2 separate regions of the Homo sapiens genome follow, and region 1 is linked to region 2. The links come from fine-mapping of genetic effects on gene expression. A gene starts in region 2. The other region holds a variant in brackets. All regions are shown on one strand. Distances are from middle to middle. Region 1 overlaps GRXCR2 (glutaredoxin and cysteine rich domain containing 2). Region 2 holds the start of PRELID2 (PRELI domain containing 2).

The links. PIP is the estimated chance that this variant, and not a neighbour inherited with it, causes the effect.
Region 1: its variant is fine-mapped to the expression of PRELID2 in gastroesophageal junction (GTEx, PIP above 0.99).

What each region holds. Positions count from the first base shown.
Region 1 is chr5:145,851,851-145,862,362 of GRCh38, forward strand. It overlaps GRXCR2 (glutaredoxin and cysteine rich domain containing 2), which reads right to left. Exons shown (of 3, transcript NM_001080516.2): 3 at 6,671-8,065. The coding sequence ends at 7,883. Among named protein-coding and RNA genes, the nearest start is that of GRXCR2, 16 kb to the right of the region's middle. RefSeq lists a cis regulatory region at 2,708-3,307. The variant C/T (reference allele first, on the strand shown) is at 4,558.
Region 2 is chr5:145,830,038-145,840,549 of GRCh38, forward strand. PRELID2 (PRELI domain containing 2) reads right to left here and starts at 5,305. Exons shown (of 7, transcript NM_205846.3): 1 at 5,140-5,305. The coding sequence starts at 5,214. RefSeq lists a silencer at 5,497-5,616.

The DNA of each region.
Region 1 (10,512 bases), 22 kb after region 2:
TCTCTGTCTGTTTAAGGAGAATAAATGTTGGGAACTGTAAGCCAAAAAGACTATTCAGTTTGAGTGAACACTGACAATAACCCACCAGAAAGAAGGTTTTGCAGTGTTTGCCAATGTAATGAATTACCAGACGACCTCTAGAGGAAGGCTAACTACTCACTCAATCCTCAACTCCTAGGAGATTAAATCTCAGTGCTAATAAGGAAGGTGTCAGTTTTTAATGCTAAGAGACCAAATCGATATTTGATTATGACAGGAGAATCAGTTATGTAAGAACAGCCAAGTGATAATTACAAAAACAATTTCAGGGGTAGATAGTAGGTTGCAAAATTAAACCCTAGGCATAAGATAAGGCCTGAAATACTCTTGCTGACATAACAGATATCATTGAACTATAGAAAAGCTTACTATAAAAAGGTGGTTTAGGTTAGAATCACCTTGGGAGAAGCAACAAATGTAACCAAGAATTAATCAGTCAATAAACCAAGTCTTGCAATCTAGGCTGTTCTGATAAGATAATCTTTTCTTTGGGCCTTCTAACAATCGTGTGACCCCAGAAAGAAATAAAAATAACAGTACTGAAATCCTGAGGGTATATCAAAACAAGCATAGAAAAACAAGCACAGAAATAAGAAAAGCATCAAACCCACGATATTGATGCCCTAAAGTAGATTTCTGTGAAACTATAGCAATATATTCTGTAGTCTTTGTTTCTATAAGTTTGTGAATTACGGTTTTGAAGTGTTTAAAAGGGTTAGACATTCCAAATATATAATTGCAGTTTGTTTAAATTGTTTACAGTGGTTTGCTTAATAAATTTGTGATCAGTATTTAAAGGCCCCAAGAAAAATTGGTTGTTAGTTTTTGGTGTTAGATTTATGAGCTTAATAAATTGAGCATTAAACAAAGAACAAATGGTTGCTAGTATTCTTCTCCATGAGAAAAACCTTCAGATATATAAGGCTACATCAACAAAGACCTGGACAGAAGATGGTCTTACCTTGTACTGGTTATCTTTTCTTATGTAATAAATCATCCCAAAATTTATTGGCTCAAAACAGCATATATTATCTCACAGTTTTGTATCCCACAGGTCAGAGATTTGGGCACAGCTTAGCTGAATGGTTCTGACTCTAGGTCTCTGATGGGCTGCAATTAAGTTGTCAGCTGGGGTTGCAGTCATCTCAAGCTCAACTGGGAAAGACCCTGTTCCAAGCTCACTCACGTGGCTGTTGGCAGGATTCCCTTCCCAGCAGGCAGCTGACTGAGGGCCTCAGTTCCTTGCTGGCTGTTGGTTGGAAGCCACCTTCTGCTCCTTGCCACGTGGACCTCTCCATAAGGCACCTTGCAACATGGCAGTTGGCCTCAACAGGTGAGCAAGCAAAAAGCCAGAGAAAGAGTCATGATCTTTGACAACCTCATCTTTGAAGTGACATCGCATCACTTTTGCCATAGCCTATTGTTAAAAGTAAGTCACTTGGTCCAGTCCACACTCAAGGGGAAGGGATTACACAGGCCAGGAATACCAGGAGGTGGGGATCATTGGGAGGCATTTTAGAAGCTGCCCACTGGTGAAATTTTCACAAGGCATTGGCCCATGAGACAACAATACACTGAGGGCTCTGTATGTGCAATTAAGGGTCATGTCTCTGCAAACACCAAACCACCACATATTTATAGAACACCTTCTATGCACCAAGCACAGTGTAGATGCTGGGGATACAATGATGCATGGCCACAGTTCCTGCCCTCAAGAAGCTCAAAGCTGAATGAGGGAGACCAACAATGAAAGGAGAGTTAACCAATCTTTATCCTCTTCCCCTCCTATGGCATGTATTATTTTATTTTGCAAATGTTCGTTTAATTCTCTAACTCCCTGTGAGACCATGATGTCCTTGAGAGAAGATACTATGTCTCTTTCATCTGTGTGACTGCTTGTGACTTACACATGGCCTGACACATAGGAGGCCTTCAAAAATTATAACACTTTGAACCTAAGAAAGCAGACATGGTCAATTATCTATTAGTCATCTATACCTTAGTGTGAATTAATGGCCCTAATCTTCTGGGAAATAATCACTGATGGAGGAAAATGTGTCTGGGAGCTGGATAATAGGGATGCTAAGGGGACTATACACAGAGGAAACTCATAGTGTAAAAGGAGATAAACATAGATTTTCATTTTGTCAAGGTCTGATTTAACTGCCCCTTTCCTCCCTCCTTTCCCCAACTCTCAAGCAATAAGGAAGTTCTACTGTATTATGTTTCTAGGTCTTTTCTTCTCTTGGTTTTATGTGTTCTTTAACACACGCAGTAATTATATGCCATAATTCTGACACTGACATAACTCCATTTCTCTCTCACATAATTGCATGAATGTGACTCTCTATAATTACTGTGTTTAATTAGAAAATGAGGACATGCGACTAATGAGGACAGGTGATTAAAAAACAACTGCGAACATCTCTTTCAAATTTACCTTTAGCATAAAATTCACTCCACTTTAGCATAAAATTTAGCATAAGCTCTAGTGAACCACAGAATTTTTTTTATAAATGTTGCCAGCACTCATCTAAATGAATATATTACCAGAGCAATTTATATTTGTGGAAGAGTTAGACTAGGAAAATATCATCTTACCTATGAACTGAAGCTTAAATGATGTCTTTGGCCAGTTAAATTTGGAAAAGTAAAGTATGGATCACAAAGTAAATAGTTAACTCTGTTTTCAAAAATTTTAAATGTACTGTGCTCTCTTTAGCAGGGATCTTACCTGGAAACCAACATGAAAACAAGGAAGAAAAGGTAGAGTTGCTATAGGGGCAAAGGTTTAAGGCCTGTGGACTCTGCCCTTCCCGCTGCACAGAGCCCCTTAGACAGGTAGGGAGGGGAACATATTGCCATTTCAAACCACAAGTGTCCTTCAAGGAGGGTGGAGTCTGTGAAAAAGAAGCTTCCTGGTCTCTGCAGATCTTTGTGTGTGAAGAGTAGATAAGCCTTGAGGCTGAGCCACAGTTGGAAATAGGAGCCATAAAGATGAGTCACTCTGGCAACAGAGTAAGAAGAATAAGGGTCAGCTGGGATGGGAAGGCAGAGAGGGAAGGAGGAACCAGCAGAAGGGTGCTAAGTGGCTGGCACAGTCTGCAGAAGTCTTGTGAAGTCCTCTCATTACTATGATGCAGTGTCAGTCCCCTGGGTAGATCCCCAGTTTCAGTACAGTTTGTTGCACCCACAAAGGCCTAGTAAGGCAAGATGTTTGTGAGGATCACAGAAAGGGCCTGTGTATTTACTCTGGGTGAGCACGGCATGGAAAGGAACAGTATGAGTGAGACTAAGAGATGGTCAATAAACTGAATTAACTCAACTTTAAGACAATTTAGGAGCTGATTAAGTGTGAACTGCTTAGAGCAATGCCTTACGTGCAGTTAAGGCTAATATGTGCTTGTTAATTTAAATAAATGCATACATAACATTCTTTAACAAACACAGCCCCCAAACCAGGCCGATCTAACTTGACCTCAAGCAGACAAATGAAAGTTACTAGAGTAAGTAGCAAAGGGTAGCTATAGTGTCCTCCCCAAACTGTGGGCCGAAATTCAGTTACTATGTGAACTAGAGGCCCAAGACTGTAATTTCATTAACGATAAATACTAAATCCTTTTTCATCTTTGTCTTCTGAGGACCTAGTACGAATGTCCAGAACATAGCAGAAATCTAACAAAAAATTATTCAATGAATAAATGAATGGATGTTACATTTTTAAGACGTATTTATTAAAAACTTTTTTGAGCTTTCTAAGGATATAGTATTATTTTAATCACAGCATCATTATGATGATATTTTTTAACCTTCGTGTTTGTTTCTAGCTCTGAAGGGATTCTTGTAGTCTTAGTGGAGTACCAGTTGGTTAACCTTGTTTAAACTTATTCCTAACCCTGCCCAACCCACTGGCAAATACTTATAGTTCACAAATCAGGAAGTGGATGTTTTGGTGCAAACTTGTCTCCAGTAATAGGCAAAGAACTCAAGTATGTATGTTTTGCATACGAGGGGTCATAGCAATATTCCTGAGTTCAAAGGACGGTAAATAGAGCTTGTGGTTCTAGCTTCACAATATATCCATTGTCTGACCACTTTTTACCACATCCACTGATACCACACTGGCACTATTAGCTGCCACCAAGATTATTGCAATAGTCTCCTAGCTGGCCTCCCATTTCTGCCCTTGCCAGTGGTGTCTCCTCTCAACACAGCAGCCCGAGTGGCCTGTTAAAACATAAATCATCAGACCATGACCCTCCTCTGCTCCAGTCGGTGCCCAATCAAGAAAACAGAAACCATTCCAGGTATTTCCAAGAGAGGAAATATAGGGAATTGGTTACAAAGATTAGTGACTGCAGGTAGCCACTACCACCCCTAGGAAGGAGGAACAAAAGGGAAAATGGTGTTTCAGCGAGCCCACAACCAGAGCCAGTAAAGCAGCTACTGGTGGAAGCAAGCAGCCGGCCAGCATTCCTAGCTGCTGCTGCTGCTCCTGCAGCTGCCCTATGGGAAGGC[C/T]GCCGGGAACCCGATTCAAAAAAAGGAAGGCTCTTCCTCCCTCTCCTCTCCCAGTGTCCTGGCGCACCTAACAGGAAGCCAGCGGGCACGGGGGGTCCGGAAAGTGTAGTTTGCACGTCTCCTGCCCCAGCAGCAAGGGGGCGGGGGGTTGAAAGGGAGTGCGGAGGGCGGTAGCAGAAAGCAGGCTCTATCCACAGCAGGCCCTCACTCAGAGTAAAACCCGAGTTCTCATCGTGGCATCTGAGGGAGGCGCCCCCGCCGTGACACACAAGAACGAACTTTCCCTTCAGACGTCATCCCCGCTGCTGTCTTCATGCTCACCCAGACCAGCCACGCGGGCTCCTTCCCTGTTCTTCAAAGGTGCAGGCGCTCTTCTTCCCGACTCTAGCATTTGCTGTTTCCTCTGCCTGGGATAGTCTTACGCCAGACACCTTCCCAGCTCACTCCCTCAACTCCTTTAGGCCTTTCTTTAAATGACACCTTTTCTTATTTCTTATTTTTATTTTTAATTTATATTCCTAGACATCAGTCTCAAGCTGATAAATGGCACCTTGTCAAGGAGCCTCCCTGCAAGCTAATTTAAAAATTGCAACCTATTTTTTTTTTTTTACACGGAGTTTCGTTTTTGTTGCCCAGGCTGGAGTGCAGTGGCACAATCTTGGCTCACTGCAACCTCCACCTCCCGGGTTCAAGCGATTCTCCTGCCTCAGCCTCCCAAGTAGCTGGTATTGCAGGCATGTGCCACCACGTCTGGCTAATTTTTTGTATTTAGTAGAGAGGGGGGGTTTCACCATGCTGGTCAGGCTGGTCTTGATCTCCCGACCTTAGGTGATCCACCCGCCTCAGCCTCCCAAAGTGCTGGGATTACGGTGCGAGCCACCGCGCCCAGCCTTTTGTCCTTTTTAACACCACTATACGTTACATATATGTGTGTGTATATATGTAATGTATGTGTTATATATATAGCTTACTATATATAATTGTATATATTTTGTTCTATAGGCTATACTTATTGCATAAACATATATATTATTCCCATAAATCTATATATTTAGTTGTCTGTATTCCTTCACCAAAATTTAAGCTCGTAGGAGCATTTAGTTTGTTTTGTCTACTGATACATCCTCGGTGCTCCATAAATACTTGTAGATAGTCAACAATAACATACTGTACACTTAAAAGTTCATTAAGAGGGTAGTTCTCATGTTAAGTGTTCCTACCACAATAATAAATGAATACTTGTGAAATGAACACAATAAATATGATCATTAGTAGGTTATTTATTATGTGATGAAAAACATTAAAGGCTCTTTACAGAAGCTGAGGTTGCTCACACTTCTTCCTCTGGGCAACCTGCATAACCCCACTAAGGCTTAAATTAGATGCCCCTTCTGCATGCTCCAAATGCTCCCTGTAATTATCCTATCCCAGCACTTGTCACAGTGCATTGCAATTATCCATTTATGTATCTATCTCCTCCTCTAAAACTAAGTTCCATGAGATACCAAAGGGATGATGCCTCTCTGGGTAACATGATACATCAAGCACTTTGGAATACTGTCCTGTATGCAGCGGGGCTCAAACAATATTTGTGACGGAATATTCCTGTCGAAAAGCAGAATAGAGCCAGGCGCGGTGGCTCATGCCTGTAATCCCAGCACTTTGGGAGGCCGAGATGGGCGGATCACCTGAGGTCAGGAGTTGGAGACCAGCCTGGCCAACATGACGAAACCCCGTCTCTACTAAAAATACAAAAATTAGCTGGGAGTGGTGGCATGTGCCTGTGATCCCAGCTACTCAGGAGGCGGAGGCAGGAGAATCGCTGGAAGCCGGGAGGCAGAGGTTGCAATGAACAAAGATTGCACCACTGCACTCCAGCCTGAGCAACAGAGCGGACTCTGTCTCCCACAAAAAAAAAAAAAAAAAGCAGAATACACTCTCAACATCCCTCCTTCCTCTAGTATTCTGAAAAGTCAGAAGAGCCAACAGCTGTGAGAAAACATAAACAGAGGCAGGAGGTATAACAGTTAAGGACAGAAGCAAAGAAAGCTGGTGAGCAATATGGTAACTCCTGAGTATGAAAGGACAGGCAAAACTATCAAGGCTTCAAAAATATTTTAGTCTTTTTTATTAGAATTATTTATATTGCCTGAAAAGCATTCCATTGTTAAATTATGTTAAACGCTGAATATTAGAGAATAACAAACAAATCTTGAGAAATTATTAAGTTATGAAATCAAAATTATTATCACAGAATGCAGCAGGTCTCAAGAGATAAATTTTGCAGTGTTATTCTTAAGGGGCTTGGGGAGTGGGTGTTAGAGCTATAAAAGTTCATTAACAAAAGTATGTTCTAATTTTATAACCAACCTCAAGAGGAAAGAATCATCCTTACTATGCATATTCATGGATAGTAGAAACATTACTGCTAAAAATCAGCCTTGGTTAATTTTTTTCTTTTAGAGATTTCCAGTAGGTAATCTATAAAATACCTGCAGTCCTTTATGAAGAGATCATGGCTAGGTTCTAGACTTAAAGTGGATTTATTTATTTGGTAGTAATTCAGGGGCTCGAAGAAGTTATATCATACACACATATTTGAGCACCAAATTTATCATAAATAACTTTGACTTGGCTTATAACCTCAGTAGTTAGAGGCACACAAAAATGTCTTATCTCATCTTGACTTAAGAAATAGTATTGCTCACTGTCTGCATAAATATTATCCAAACACACCACATGGAAGAGGTTCAGGACTTTGAAAGGGAAGGCTCCTTGGCTTGCCTGTCTCCACAGTGAACATCCCATTTTGCTTGCTGTGGCCTGCTAGTGCGTTCAGCGTTGGCTGTCCGTTTCCTCTTCTGCTTAATCAGAAATTCAGTTTGACTAATAATCACATGAGATGCATTATAAGCAACAAGAAATCAGTTCATCAGAAACCTGCCTTTTTTACTCCTTTCTCACCACATAATTTTGCAAAATAACTCCCAACCTGATGCCTGAAGTGTACATGTATTTGCTCACTGAAGCAAGAAGAAAACTGAGCTAAGTCAAGTGAGATACACTCACACCATCCTGGAAGGATAATTTTAGAACCAGTTTCAAAGCAGACTATAATTCAGAAATGCCCCTGCCACTTAGACCCACAGAGAGATGTTACCGGCCTCACAAAATGTCATCAGATAATTGAGTTTTGCCAGCAGTGGGAGTGACTGCAGCCACTGTGGCCTCCTTGTTGGGAGAGGCAGGAGGAGGAGAAGGGGGCGGTTTATTAGAAATAACTTTAGGGAGGGTAAGATAACAGTGGACATGCAAAAGCCACGGGCTATTGATTGCAAATCTGGCAAGGCTGTAGGCCATTCTCATTGCAGGCAGGGCACCTCAGGGCCCGATAGGACTCCTTAAATCTGTTGGCCAGCATCGAGAACTTGCTGCCGTGGCACAGAGAGCAGGTGGCACTGCCCGACCCTCGGCAGTGAAAACAGCTGTCCTCGGGAATATCCCCTTCCTGCAAGAGACAGGTTAGGGTTTAGTTAAAGCAGCAGTTCAAGTCCGTTGTTCACATGCAGGTCAAAACAGCACTAGACTACAGCAAAGGCTGGGGCAGAATAGAGGAAAATGCTTCCCACGAATGTCAGTGAGAGAATCATCTGGGACCCAGAATAGTTACAGCAATTTTATCAGAGAGGATTCCCCTGGTGGACACCTCTAAGACAGCATCCTGTGCCACCACACTTTGCATTCCAAGACTTCATGATCTTCATTGCCCTTGTCACTATCTCTGACCTGTTTTTTCTGTAAGCTCCATAAAGGGCAAGGACTTTATTTTCCTTATTGCCAAATACTACAAGTGAACCCTTGTAGCATGCCTGATAGGTGCCAGGTGCTGTTCTAAGTGCTTCCTATATATCATCCATCTAATCCTCACAAAATCCCAGTGAGATAGTGTAAGTATTATTATCCTTGTGTTGCAGATGGGAAAATGAGATACTGAGAAGTTGTTTGCCAATGGTCACACACACAGCTTGAAAAAGGAAGAGGTGGGCTCTCATCTCAGCGATTTGAGCACCAGAATTCATGCTCCTAATGCCTATGTGCACAGCCCCTCATTGTAGTTGTCCATAGTAAATGCCCAAGACTGTTCTGTGTGACTGAGAGACTGAGTGGAGAAATGAATGAATCGATAAATGTTACAATCCTTCAAAGCTTAGCTCTGTATGCTTGCAGTACTTATATCTTTATTCTCTTTGAGAGCTAAGGCCCAGTGATTAAGAGCTCTGTACTTTGGAGTTAATAGACTAGGACTGAGGCTATTGTCTGCCATCAGCTGTGCAACTTGAATAGTTCCCTTAGCCTCTCCCAATCTGTTTCTTTATTTATAGAATTGAATAATAATGCTTACCCTTCTGAGTAGCTGGAACATTAAATGAGAGAATATATGTAATGCAATATTATCTGTCAGATCATAGGTGCACCTTCTCCTAAGCCTTGCTAACAAATCTCCAGTTCTTGACTCCCACTCTTCAGAAAATGTTCCTTGGCTATTGTCTTGCTCTCCCCCTTAAAGCTATCTTAAGGAAATTGGTGATCTTGGTACTCCTTATAGACTATGAACCTTCCCAGAAATAAGGGGAGATACTAGATCGAAACCTGCTAAATTCAGTACCAAGTCCTGGCCATTTCAGCTTCTGAAAATCTCAAATCCATCCTGCTTTCTTCATCCCACAACTACAATCCCAGCCCAATTGCCCACTGACTCTGGCATGAACTGAGTGTGGACCCATGCCTCTGGTCTTGTGGTATGTTCTTCCCACTGATGCCAAGCTTATTAAGTTGCCTGCAGTAGTGATTGTCACATAGAAAGCAATCAGGAAACCTTTTTAATGAACACTTGCCCTCCAGATAAAACCTCAGGATAAAACCCAGTCTCCTTAGCCGATTTAAATTTTTTGTCACTTCTTTCATCAGGATCTTGTTCATGGGCCTCTCTGTACTTGGTCTCCAGGGACCTTTCCCCAATCCCAACGCAGCCAACTCCTGCTTGTCCCCAGAAGTCAGCTTAGCAGCTCTTCCTCCAAGAAGGCTTGCCCACCCACAGCTCTGGACCAGGAGTTCCCCCACCCCCATGGCCACCTGTACTGCCCCTCGCATGACAGGTATCCCATACTCCAGTGAAAGTTCCTGTTGATTAGACAGGGAGCTCTCTGGACTTGTACCATTTCATGATCACTTCCCAAACATCTAGTGCAGTGCCTGGCATGCTACTTATGTCAAATGAATAAACAAATGAACAATAATATCTGGAGAACCCTTCCTGTTCTTAAATTCTAGGGACCAACAAGACAGCAGGAGTCCGCTGGGTAGCTCTGCCCAACTCATTCAGCTTTCTTTTATAACCTAAGAATAAAAATAATCCCTGAAAAGGGAGGCATACGTTTTGAAAATAGCTCCATCATGCTGCAAATTGCCTAAGAAGATACTAAATTTTATTTATTCTAGATTTAAGGAATGAAAGTAATTACCCAATTGACAAAAACTCAAATCAGGTCTATGTACCCTTTCGTTAATATTTTATTGATTGCTACCATATTTTAGTATATTAACAATGGAGAATTTGTTTTCTTAAAGTATTCAAAATAATACATATTTGCAAAAATATTCTTAAAGCAAGTTGCCACGATTCATTTCCTGCCAAATCCATTAGGTTTTATGTTTTGTACTTCATCCCAGTGAGATTTTAATAACATAAGTCCACACTGTGAGGGAAAGTACAGTAAAATCCTAACATAATGCTATACATGTGATCCAAAAATTCATTTGCATAAAACGCCAGATCAGATATTGAAAGATTAATGAAATGACCTAGTAAGCCTTCTGTAGAGAATAAGAACACGTCTTCCATCAAATTATATCTAATGTCATATAGTTCTAGGGTGCACTACATTATTAGAAGTT
Region 2 (10,512 bases):
GTATCCAAAGTAAGGACATGTTTCTGAATCCCATACTGACTTCAATCTAAAATTGCACAGGGCTAATCCCCAAAAGAGTCAGTTCATTCATTCATTCAGCAAGGATTTGCTGAGTACCTACTATGTTCCAGGATCTCTTTGGGTAATTGGGATACATCAGAAACAAATGACAAAAATCACCACCTATGAAGGTGATATTCTATTCACTATGACTCCTTTGACCACAGCATAAAAAGAAAGTCAACCTTCTGAAGGTAAGAAAAATCTTTACTTCTCTGGCCTCATTTAGATATAAACAAGAAAATCCAGTCAATATAATAGCTCTCTGGATCCTTTTTAATGAGTTTAAATTTCAGGCAGATGAAATTTAAGAAGTTCTCTGAATCCAGCTCATGAAAGGCAAGCCCATTAAAAAGGTCTAAGTGAGATTCCAGAGAAGACCCACTTTCTACACTGCTACATTCATCTATGCAACTTTGTGTTCTCTTTGTAGATGATTTTAAGTAAAAGGAAGGAAACAGTGGTAAGTGATAAGAGCTAGAAAGCTAAGAATCACACAAAGAAAGAAACCAAAATACACTGTCAAGTGCATTGACACTATAGTTCTTGGAAAGTACATACAGTTCAGCATCCAATGAATAAACTATTTTGGGTTTCATAACATTCCTCCATGAAGAGTTTATTGAGAAATATTGTATTTTAGGAACAAAGAGTATCATATTGTTTGTTTTCACAGTGTCACTTAGCTTTGAAAGCATGCAGCTAATATTTTGCCTGTGGTATTCAACAGGCAGATGTAAGAAGAGCAAACATTCTTCAGGTTTTAAAAACCGTAGTATATTATAACTTGGAAGGCAACTCCTAACAAACCAAAAGCCATAGATCAGTAGATCTGATTTAAAATAGAACTTCCTCAGTGCTAAAGCAGCTTCAAACATACCATTGTGCAAAATCAGATTAAATGCTTCCCAGTGATCCTCATATGATTGTCGCTTCTGCCAAGTGCTTTCCTTTGAAAAAAAAATCATAAAGACTGAAAGAAAAATAAAAGTGTATTTTGCCAAAAAGATAATTCTTACTACCTTAGGCTTATAAAAAAGCTTATGCTTTTCAAACTGTTAACACATGTGACATCCTCACAACAACCCTGGAAGGTAGGTGGGGTAGGTGGCATTACCATTTTCACAGAGGAGAAACTAGGGCTTACACAGTTGTGATGCTGCTGACTGCACAAGGGCTCCTGGTCAAGTGGGCCTGTGGGCACAGGACTGCATCCACCTAAAGGAAGGAGTAACTTTTTCTAATTTGCATAAATAGTCTCATTTGCTTTCCCCTAGCCCTATGAACTGTGAGCTTATGGAGTGGACCCCTAAAAGATGCCTTTTCTAATTTGCACAAGGACACAGTATAGGATGGTGAAAATTGTTTCCCATGGCCACCCAACCTAACAGTGAAAGCATAATGATCAAGATCCAGGTCTACTGACTACCAGTTCATGGCTTTGAATAACATAAGGGGAAAATTCACCCAGCAAATGGGTTTACTGACATCTTAGAAATAGTCACATAGTTCCTCCCAAGGAATCTCTGAAGGATTCCTTTATGAATGAATAGAAAGAAAGGAAGTACAGTGACATGCATGATGTTAACACTGTCCCATCACTAGACCTTTAGTCTCCAAATGTTTGTCTCTCATTTCCCCAGTTCTGCCTTCCATTTCCCAGTTCTGACATCCCCAGTTCTGTTTCCCAGTTCTGCCCTTCCCAGTTCTGCCTTTTCATAGTACTTATTCACTATGTACCAGGTACTTTGCTAAATATTTTATAAGAATTACAACAGGTTCTAACTGAATACAGCTACATAAGTGACCTCAGCTATACCACACAGCACACAAAAATCAACCACATGAGTTTAGTCAACTCACAGAATTGTGAAAATTAAAAGCCTGTCATTGGTTTAAGTCGCTACGTTTTGGAGTGGTTTGTTACATACCAATAGATAACTTAAACATTCTGTGTTCTCACCCTAACACACATCAAAGTTATATCTTTATATCAGGGTCAACAGGTCCACTTAGCTGAGCAAACCCTGAGAGAAGACTGTGAACAAAAGAAAACACATTGAGCACAGCCAAGTTTTTTGGGTTTTTTTGTTTGTTTTTGTTTTTGAGATGAAGTCTTGCTCTGTCACCCAGGCTGGAGTGCAATGGCATGATCTCAGCTCACTGCAACCTCCATCTCTTGGGTTCAAGTGATTCTCATCTTAGCCTCCCGAGTAGCTGGGATTACAGGCATAGGGCACCACACCTGGCTAATTTTTTGTATTTTTGGTAGAGATGGTATTTCACCATGTTAGCCAGGCTGGTCTTGAACTCCTGACCTCAAGTGATCCGCCCGCCTCGGCCTCCCAAAGTGCTGGGATTACAGGAGTGAGCTGCCGTGCCCAGCCGGCAAAGTTGATTCTGAAACCCTGTATTACCTCAATAATCGTTGAAGTGCCTATTATATGCAATGCAGCACAGCCGGGTGGCTAAGGCTGTGAGTTTCGGATCCATGTGTTAAAATCCTGGCTGTCCTACCTGCTAGCTGTGGGAACTTGAGGAAGGCACTTGGACTTCTCTGGTCCTCAGTTTCTCTATATTGTAAAATGGAAATTAATCATAACTACTTCCTGAGGGTGCTGGCAGCAGTAAACATGATAAAGTATGGAAAGCACACATGAGCGCACATACACACACCACACCACACCACACACACCACACCACACACCACACACCCAGCCTTCCTAGGAAACTTCTATTCATGCTTCAGCCATCATTTCACCAGTGCCACTTCTTCAGGAAAGCCTTTCCTAAAGATCACCCTCTCTGACTTCAGCAGGCCTCCCTGCTATATTCAAGCACCATGTATTTTCCTTTCATAAGTACACATCATCAATTTGAATTTTGTGTTCATTTGCGCATCATTTATTTATGTTAATCTCCCCACTACACACCATCAGTTCCATGAGAACAGGGTCTGCGGTGACCTCCCACATTTTTCTAGCACTTAACACAAAGCTTGGCACACAGAAGATAAGTATTCAACAAAAGAAAAGCATTTACCAAAAGCTGACAATGCGCCAGGACCTCCGTAAATAAGAGTTTGGCATTGTGTTATGTGCTTCTGCAGGAGTGAGTCTCACCTTTAAAAACCTTAGAGTCTAACGGGAAACACAACACATACAGAAGTCACCATCTGACACTGCAGACGGTCAGCAACGCCTAGACAGAGTGCCCTGTGAGTTCTGAGAAGGTGGAGATCAACTGACTCTTGATGATGACAATCCAAAAAGACTTTACAAAGGAGCAGTGGCTTAAGGGTACCCAGACTCCAAAGTGCCAGTTCTAACAAAAAAATTGGGTGTTGGCTGTTACTTTTTGGGCCCAGAAGCCTGGCCTAAGGCAAAGTCTACAACAGGTCTGTAAATCATTCTTTCATTCATTTATTCATTGCTCAGGTTTTTATTAAATACCTAGTAGGTGCTAGGCACTAGTCTAGATACTGAAAATCAACGAACATATCAGCAAGCTGACATTCCTTCTAAAGAGGCCCCCTATAGCAACAAAGTGTTAACCAGTGTCCTCCTCACTCCTCTGTGACCAGGGCCACCGTGTCACCTCCTCTAACGGAGGCTACACCTTATCGTTTAACAAATGACCTTCATCTTCCCAGCATCTCCCTTAGTTTGGCTTCCGGGTTGCATATGGAGTTCAATGTCCCGTGGCTGCTAACCAAGGCAAATTGCAACTGTTGCAAATTTTGCTTATGAAAACCGAAGGGGACCTTCAAAGATCATCTGGTACAACCCCTTCATCTTATAGATGTGGAAACTAAGGCCTAGAGAAAAGACCCTCAGCCAAGGTCACCCAGAGAACTAACCACGCATAGAACCAGATCAGAGTCCAGGAGTCCTGCCTCCCAGGCCTGGGCGCTTTCGATTTTTCAAAGACATTTCCCATTTTCCTATTATCAGGACCCACAATCCTAGAAACAGTCTTTGGGATTCAGGGCTCCTCAGTATTGAGGAAGAGTTCATTATCTGTATTGAAATCGGTTGTAGTAATACAAACAACAATAACATTTTAGAGCCCTAACTAAACATCAGTAGCAGTGAGAAAAAGAAAAATAGCTCAGAGCAGATTGTGTGAGTTACAGTGAAATATGCAAAATCAATCAAGCCCAGAGAGACAAGAGTATAGGACTTTAGTGGTCCCCTCCTCACCCAACCCATTCCTGGGAGCAACTGGTTAAAGGCATTTTGTTCCTGACCAGCTGCCTTACCCATTATCTTCAAGTTCCTGGAATTTGTGATACAAAGAACAATGTACAGACAATCAATAGTTTATGTTATTTTAATATAAATTCTTGGTAAACAACTTAGGAAGTGCTTCTTATTCTCCTTTAAAAACCCACTTTCGACTTCTGCTCATCAGAATGTATACTCAGGGCACCTTCACTCCCAGGATGCAGCCCTCAAACTTGGCTCGAATGAACTCTCTTTTTATATTGATTTTGCCTCAGTTTCTTCATTTAGGTCACAACTGTGCTAAGCACTTTACACAAGTTACCTCATTTGGATCCTCACAACAACTCTATGAGTCGGTACTATTATTTTCCCCATTTTACAGATTAGCAAACTAAGGCACAAAGAGAGTAAGCAACCTGCACGATGTCCCACAGCTGTTTAATAAGGAGCAGCGGATGGGGCAGCAGAACCATCATGCTGAGTAAACCAGGATGACTGCCCAATGGCCTCCCCTCGCTTTTAAGGGGTCAGTGATGAACCGGAAAGCTCCACACGTCGGTCATCTGCAACTCCACGGAGCTCACGAGCTGGGATTCCCGGAGGCTCTTCCTAAAAGGAAAGCCTCTTCTTTCAGCTGGGGCAGGTGTGAACGTGATGCCAAGCACGGCCCCTTTTCCCGCTCCCTGTAAAGGGAGTCTTCGAGGAAATCCCTCTCGACCCACACATCCCTGAAGCAAAGCCCGCAGCTGGAAAGAGACACTGGCGGTGCCAGCTTCCGCGTGGATGAAGGAGAGGAGAGAGGGGCAAGCAGCGGAGGCAGCGCGGGATACGGAAGGTGGAAGCGGGGCGGTACCTTTCGGAGAAAGCTGGCGACCACCTGCTCGAAGGGGTACTTGTACACCTGGTGCACATCCACCGAGACCCCCATCCCCGCGCGCCGCGGGCCCCGCGCACCGGCCACGCCTCCGCGAGCTCAGAGCTGCCCAGGGCTCCGCAGAGGCCCGGAGGCGCCCACACTCGGACAGCCACATGGGCGTGGCCTTTTTCCTCCGCTTTTCAAACTTTCGAAACTTTATTGGCCACTCGGAGAAACGCGCAGTCGGCCACGCCCACGCCCCTACTGCCAGAGTCCGGGGCCTGGGGTTACAGAGCGCGGGAGGCGCTGGAGCGCTCCCAGAGCACCCGGGGCCCCGCGGTCTCCACGCTGGCGGCGCCAGAGCGGCCCTGGTGCCCTCCCGCGGCCGCGCCTGCCGAGAAAAGCTTCTCTGCCTGGGAGCCATCACGCCCCGCCCCAGGAAACCTGGACCTTGGGCTTATGCGTTTATGGTATCACCGCCTGGAGTCACAGAATAAGCCGTGGTTGGCAGCACGGGAAAAAAGTATTAATAAGGAAGGCCTGGTGTGACAAAGGCCAGCATTACTCATGCCACCAGGCAGCTGCCTCTGAGGCTTGGGTTTGGGCCTCGTGTAAGGTAAAGATTGCCTCGGGAATAAGAACCGCGTTTTAGTGCACCAAAACCTGCAGGTAAGTTCCTTTGCTCGCTAAGGTTAAACACCACGGAGCAAGGAACTAGAGGATACAAAAGAGTTGCGAGTATTATTATTTACTGCAACCAACAGATGTTAGGAGAACCAGCACGTTAATCCGTGTATTCAGCACGGTTCTGAGGCCTCCTATGCCCCAGCGCTGTAGTGGGCACTGCGGATTCCGCAGGGAGGAAACACCAGCTCTGCTGATGAGCCGGCTGATTTCACACCCAATCAACAAGCTGGGAAAATAAAAACAATAATCGGTTAAAGTGACACGGGCGCGGACATGATTTTAGTGAGGGTGATTATGGAGGGTCTCTGAGGTGATGACTTTTACGATTTTGCCATCTCGCTCGCCCCTGCCATACGCAGTCACACTGGTCTGGCAAAACCCTAGCCTTGTGTAAATCTAGGTCTCCTCTGACTGTCTCTACCCAAGCCACCAGAAGGGGCTGAAGGAAAATACACACCCACTGTGCATCTTTTAAGTTCATAACCACTAACCCTATGGCGCCTTTTAATGGTGCCAGACAAATACACTATGAAAGTACTGTATTTCTGGCTGGGTGCGGTGACTCACGCCTGTAATCCCAGCACTTTGGGAGGCCAAGGTGGGCGGATCGCCTGAGGTCCGGAGTTCCAGACCAGCCTGGCCAACATGGTGAAACCCTGTCCCTACTAAAAATACAAAAATTAGCCAGGCGTGATGGCGGGCGCCTGTAGTCCCAGCTACTCCGGAGGCTGAGGCAGGAGAATCGCTTGAACCCGGGAGACGGAGGTTGCAGTGAGCAGAGCTCGCCCATTGCACTCCAGCCTAGGCGACAAGAGCAAGACTCCATCTCAAAAAAAAAAAAAAAAGAGAGTACTGAATTTCTCTAATCCACTTACTCTCCCGCATTCCTCCACACCTCTGACACCTTTGTTCCCAGCCTTATACTCCAGTCATTACCTTACTTCCATTTTCACTTAGTCAATAGGTCACATCGCTCTGCCACCTCTCTACCCACCAGACCAAATGCCTTGCCTTCACTCTTGTTCCTGTGGGTGAACTGTCAGCACTTTGTTTTAGCACCAGTGTCTCCATTTGTCCACTGAATCCTGAGGTGAACTGAAAAATGTTTAACAAATAGCTGTCCTTTAAAGTATAAATCAAGCAAGGCCCTGATTTCCAAAGGTTGCTGATTCCTGTGGTGTAAATACTCCTACCATGTTTAAAGATGCCAACTCGATGTCACTAAACACAAGTTGGGGATTTAGCAACATGGAGTTGAGTGAGGAGTGGGAGTTGGGGAGGGAAGCACAGAAGCACACCATCACATAGTATTTCCACCACCCACATACGACAGCCATAAAGAACCAAAAACATAAATAATGGAAAATGTAGCAGGAAGGGATGAGTTTTCAATGTTTATTACTCTTTGGCCAGGCTCCTATGGTTCATGCCTGTAACCTCAGCACTTTGGGAGGCCAAGGCAGAAGGATCACTTGAGGCCAAGAGTTTGAGGCCAGTGTAGGCAACATAGTGAAACCCCATCTCTACAAAAAATAAAATAAAAAATTAGCCAGGTGTGGCAGTGCACACCTGTAGTCCTAGCTACTTGAGAGGCTAAGGCCAGAGGCTCTATTAAATCCGGAAGTTCAAGGCTGTAGTGAACTATGATCGTGCCATGCACTCCAGCCTGGGCCACAGAGTGAGACCCATCTCAAATAAATAAATATTTATTAATTTTTATATGTGATTGTAAATTTATATACTTTAATAATAGCTGTGTTGAATGGCCAGCTCTAGTACATCACTAAAAGTTCCTGTCCTCTTTCTTGTTCAAGGCCATCTCTCTAGCAATATCCCCCTTCCTTTCTGTATCATCAGCTTTTGTCTCTACTGGGCCATTCCAGCCAGCACAACAAGTACACTGTAATTTCTTCCATCTAAAAACAAAAACAGAAACAATACAAAAAAAACAACTCTTAACCCCCTATCTTCCTCCAGCTGTATTCCGAGTCTCTGGTCCACTGATGCTCCTCAAAAGAGCTGCCTGTAATCTCTTGAGCCCATTCCAATCAGTATTTGCCCCCACCACTTCACCGAAACGACTGTTGTCAAGGTCACCAATGACCAAATTGCTAAATCCAATAATTAATTCTTAATCCCCACCTTACTAAGCCTGTAAGCAGCATTTCCTTGAAATACAGAGGGAGGAGTGGAGAGGAGAATGAGATGCAAATGCTCTTACATGTGTTGGATGCATGTTTAAAAGCCACTCCACTATATCACCAATCCCTCCTTACAGGAAAACAAAAAGCAGTCTTCCAGGGAGACTACACAGGTCCACAAAGGAGAGATCAATTACCTGCAGAGTTTATGGTATTTTGTATCTGCCTCTTTTACCAGAGTAGCTGGAGACCAGATGTGACATACAAACCCCCTGCTAGCGTAGGTCCTGGGCCCTGTATCCTCAATCCACTCTGACCATCAGTTTCTCCCAGAGTGTATCTTTAAGCAGGACTTAATCTCCGGATTAAGTAACCATGAAAGGCCAATGGTGTGTCCTGAAAGATTAAAGGCCCCACCACCTGCAACCTCTACTTGGGGCTGGTTGGCTGAGTGACTTGTGTAAGAACAAATGTGACCTGCCCATTCCAAGGACGTTGGGGCTTTCTGAAACGTGTGCCAGACTTGACAACATGAGCCTATTATCTTGTAGCTCTGAATCACAGCCAGTTTGCACAACAGTAATCTTACTTGCTGGGTCCTCTGAGGGAGCGAGAAGAAACTGTGAAACAAATTTCCATCGCTTTGAAATTGGTTGGCTTAACTGGGCAGGGACTTGAGGGTGGAAATTTGCTGGCAAACCTTAGAAGTTCATGACCTTATTTGGTCTTTAAGATACCAAATATCTTACTAAAGAACTTTCATAAGATATCAAATACCTTTTGTATCTTCACAGGGAGGCACAATAGTTTAAACATGGTAGACATCCAATACATTTAGGTTGAATGAATGAATGAATGAATGATTGTAAATGCTGCAAGATTTAAGTGACACAGAACTCCAGCCCTGACCCTGTCTCTCTGCTTTTCTCACCTTCTTCATGTTGGTTCAATTCCCTCTTCTGACCATCCTGACCATCTCTCTATCACTGATTTTTTGTATCCAGTCTTATAATTATCTGTATATATAAATCACTGTTACTGTGACATTCTCAAGACTGGAGGAACTGCATATATTATTCACTCCTCTCTATCCAGTGCCTAGTAAAATGCTTGGCACCTAGTATATGTTGAATAAACTCACGAATGTACTTAATATAAAATATGACCTTGAACAAAATCCTTCCTGCCCCTGCAGCTCAGTTTTTCCGTCAACAAAAACTGAAATGCAGGGGCAGAAACTGAGTGGGCCAAGACTGTCTCTAAAATCCAGCAACCTGACATTTGAGATGTGAGCTAGAGACACAAGCCAAGGCAGGGAACAGGGATATAGTTATTGAAACCAGGGTACAGAATGAGAATTTGCAAGGAAAACAAAGCAAAGTATCAGAATAGATTCAAATATGTAAAATATCATGTATGATAAGTAAGCGTGGGTACTAAGGAGACAAAAACTGGAGAAGAAGGATGAGAAGTGATGGCAGGGCAGGGGAGAGAGGAGCAGTGTTAAAATTTTTTAAAAGAGCTAAGGAAGACCTCTCTGAGAAAATGACATTAAAGTAGAAAAGTTGCAAGAAGAGGAGGGCAAGTCATGCTCGTATTTGGAGGAGGATCATTCCACGTAGAAGGAATGGCAGGTTCCAAGACCTGAAACAGGCATTCTCCTGATACATTTCAGAGCTACAAGGAGGCCAGTATGGCTGTTGCAGAGTTCCTGAGATATAAGGTCAGAAAACATGAATCTAGGTCACATAGGGTCCTCCAGGCCATGGTAAAGATGTTGGCTTTATCTGTATGAGATGGGAGGCCATTGAGAGTTTTGAGCAGAGGAGAGACATGATCTCAACTGTATATTTTAACAGAATCATTCTGGCTACTTACAGTTTGGAGAAGTGACTATGGGGAGGCAAAGCAAAGAAAGAGACCAATTAAGAGGTATGATATTTTACATATATATATGTAAAATTTCCTCCCCAACTCCCACTCCTCACTAAACTCCACTCCTCCACGTATAAATATAGATTCATGGTTCCTGGCTGATAACTCCCATAGCCCTTGCTACAGTCTTTTGCTATAGTATTGGGACACTTTAGGCCTCAGAAGCAGGCTTTTCTCTCTCCGACCTTCTTCTGACTTCCCTTCACCTGCCCAAGGCAGGACTCTAATCTTTCCTGGCTTTTCTGATTGATTTCTCATTCCAGAGAGTGTCCCACCCCATACCCTGCAGGAAGAAATGCTGCACAGGAAGGCCAAGAAGAATCTAGACAGGCGGGCCTTACTAGGTTTCCTGACTCAGTCTGTTAGTATTATATCATATCCTTTTTTGCCTAATCGTATTTCTACCTGGTTATCTTCAATCATGTCTATCCAATGGAGTCTTGCTAAGAGACCCAAAAGAACAGGGTTCAGAGAGCTCCCAGCTAGCCAAACATATGGAGATTCCTGGAGGATGGTGCATCCAGGGAGGGCATGGAAGCTCCATGCCTCTTCCCCTATACCTTGCCCTATGCATCTCTTCAGCTACATCCTTTGTACTATCCTTTAT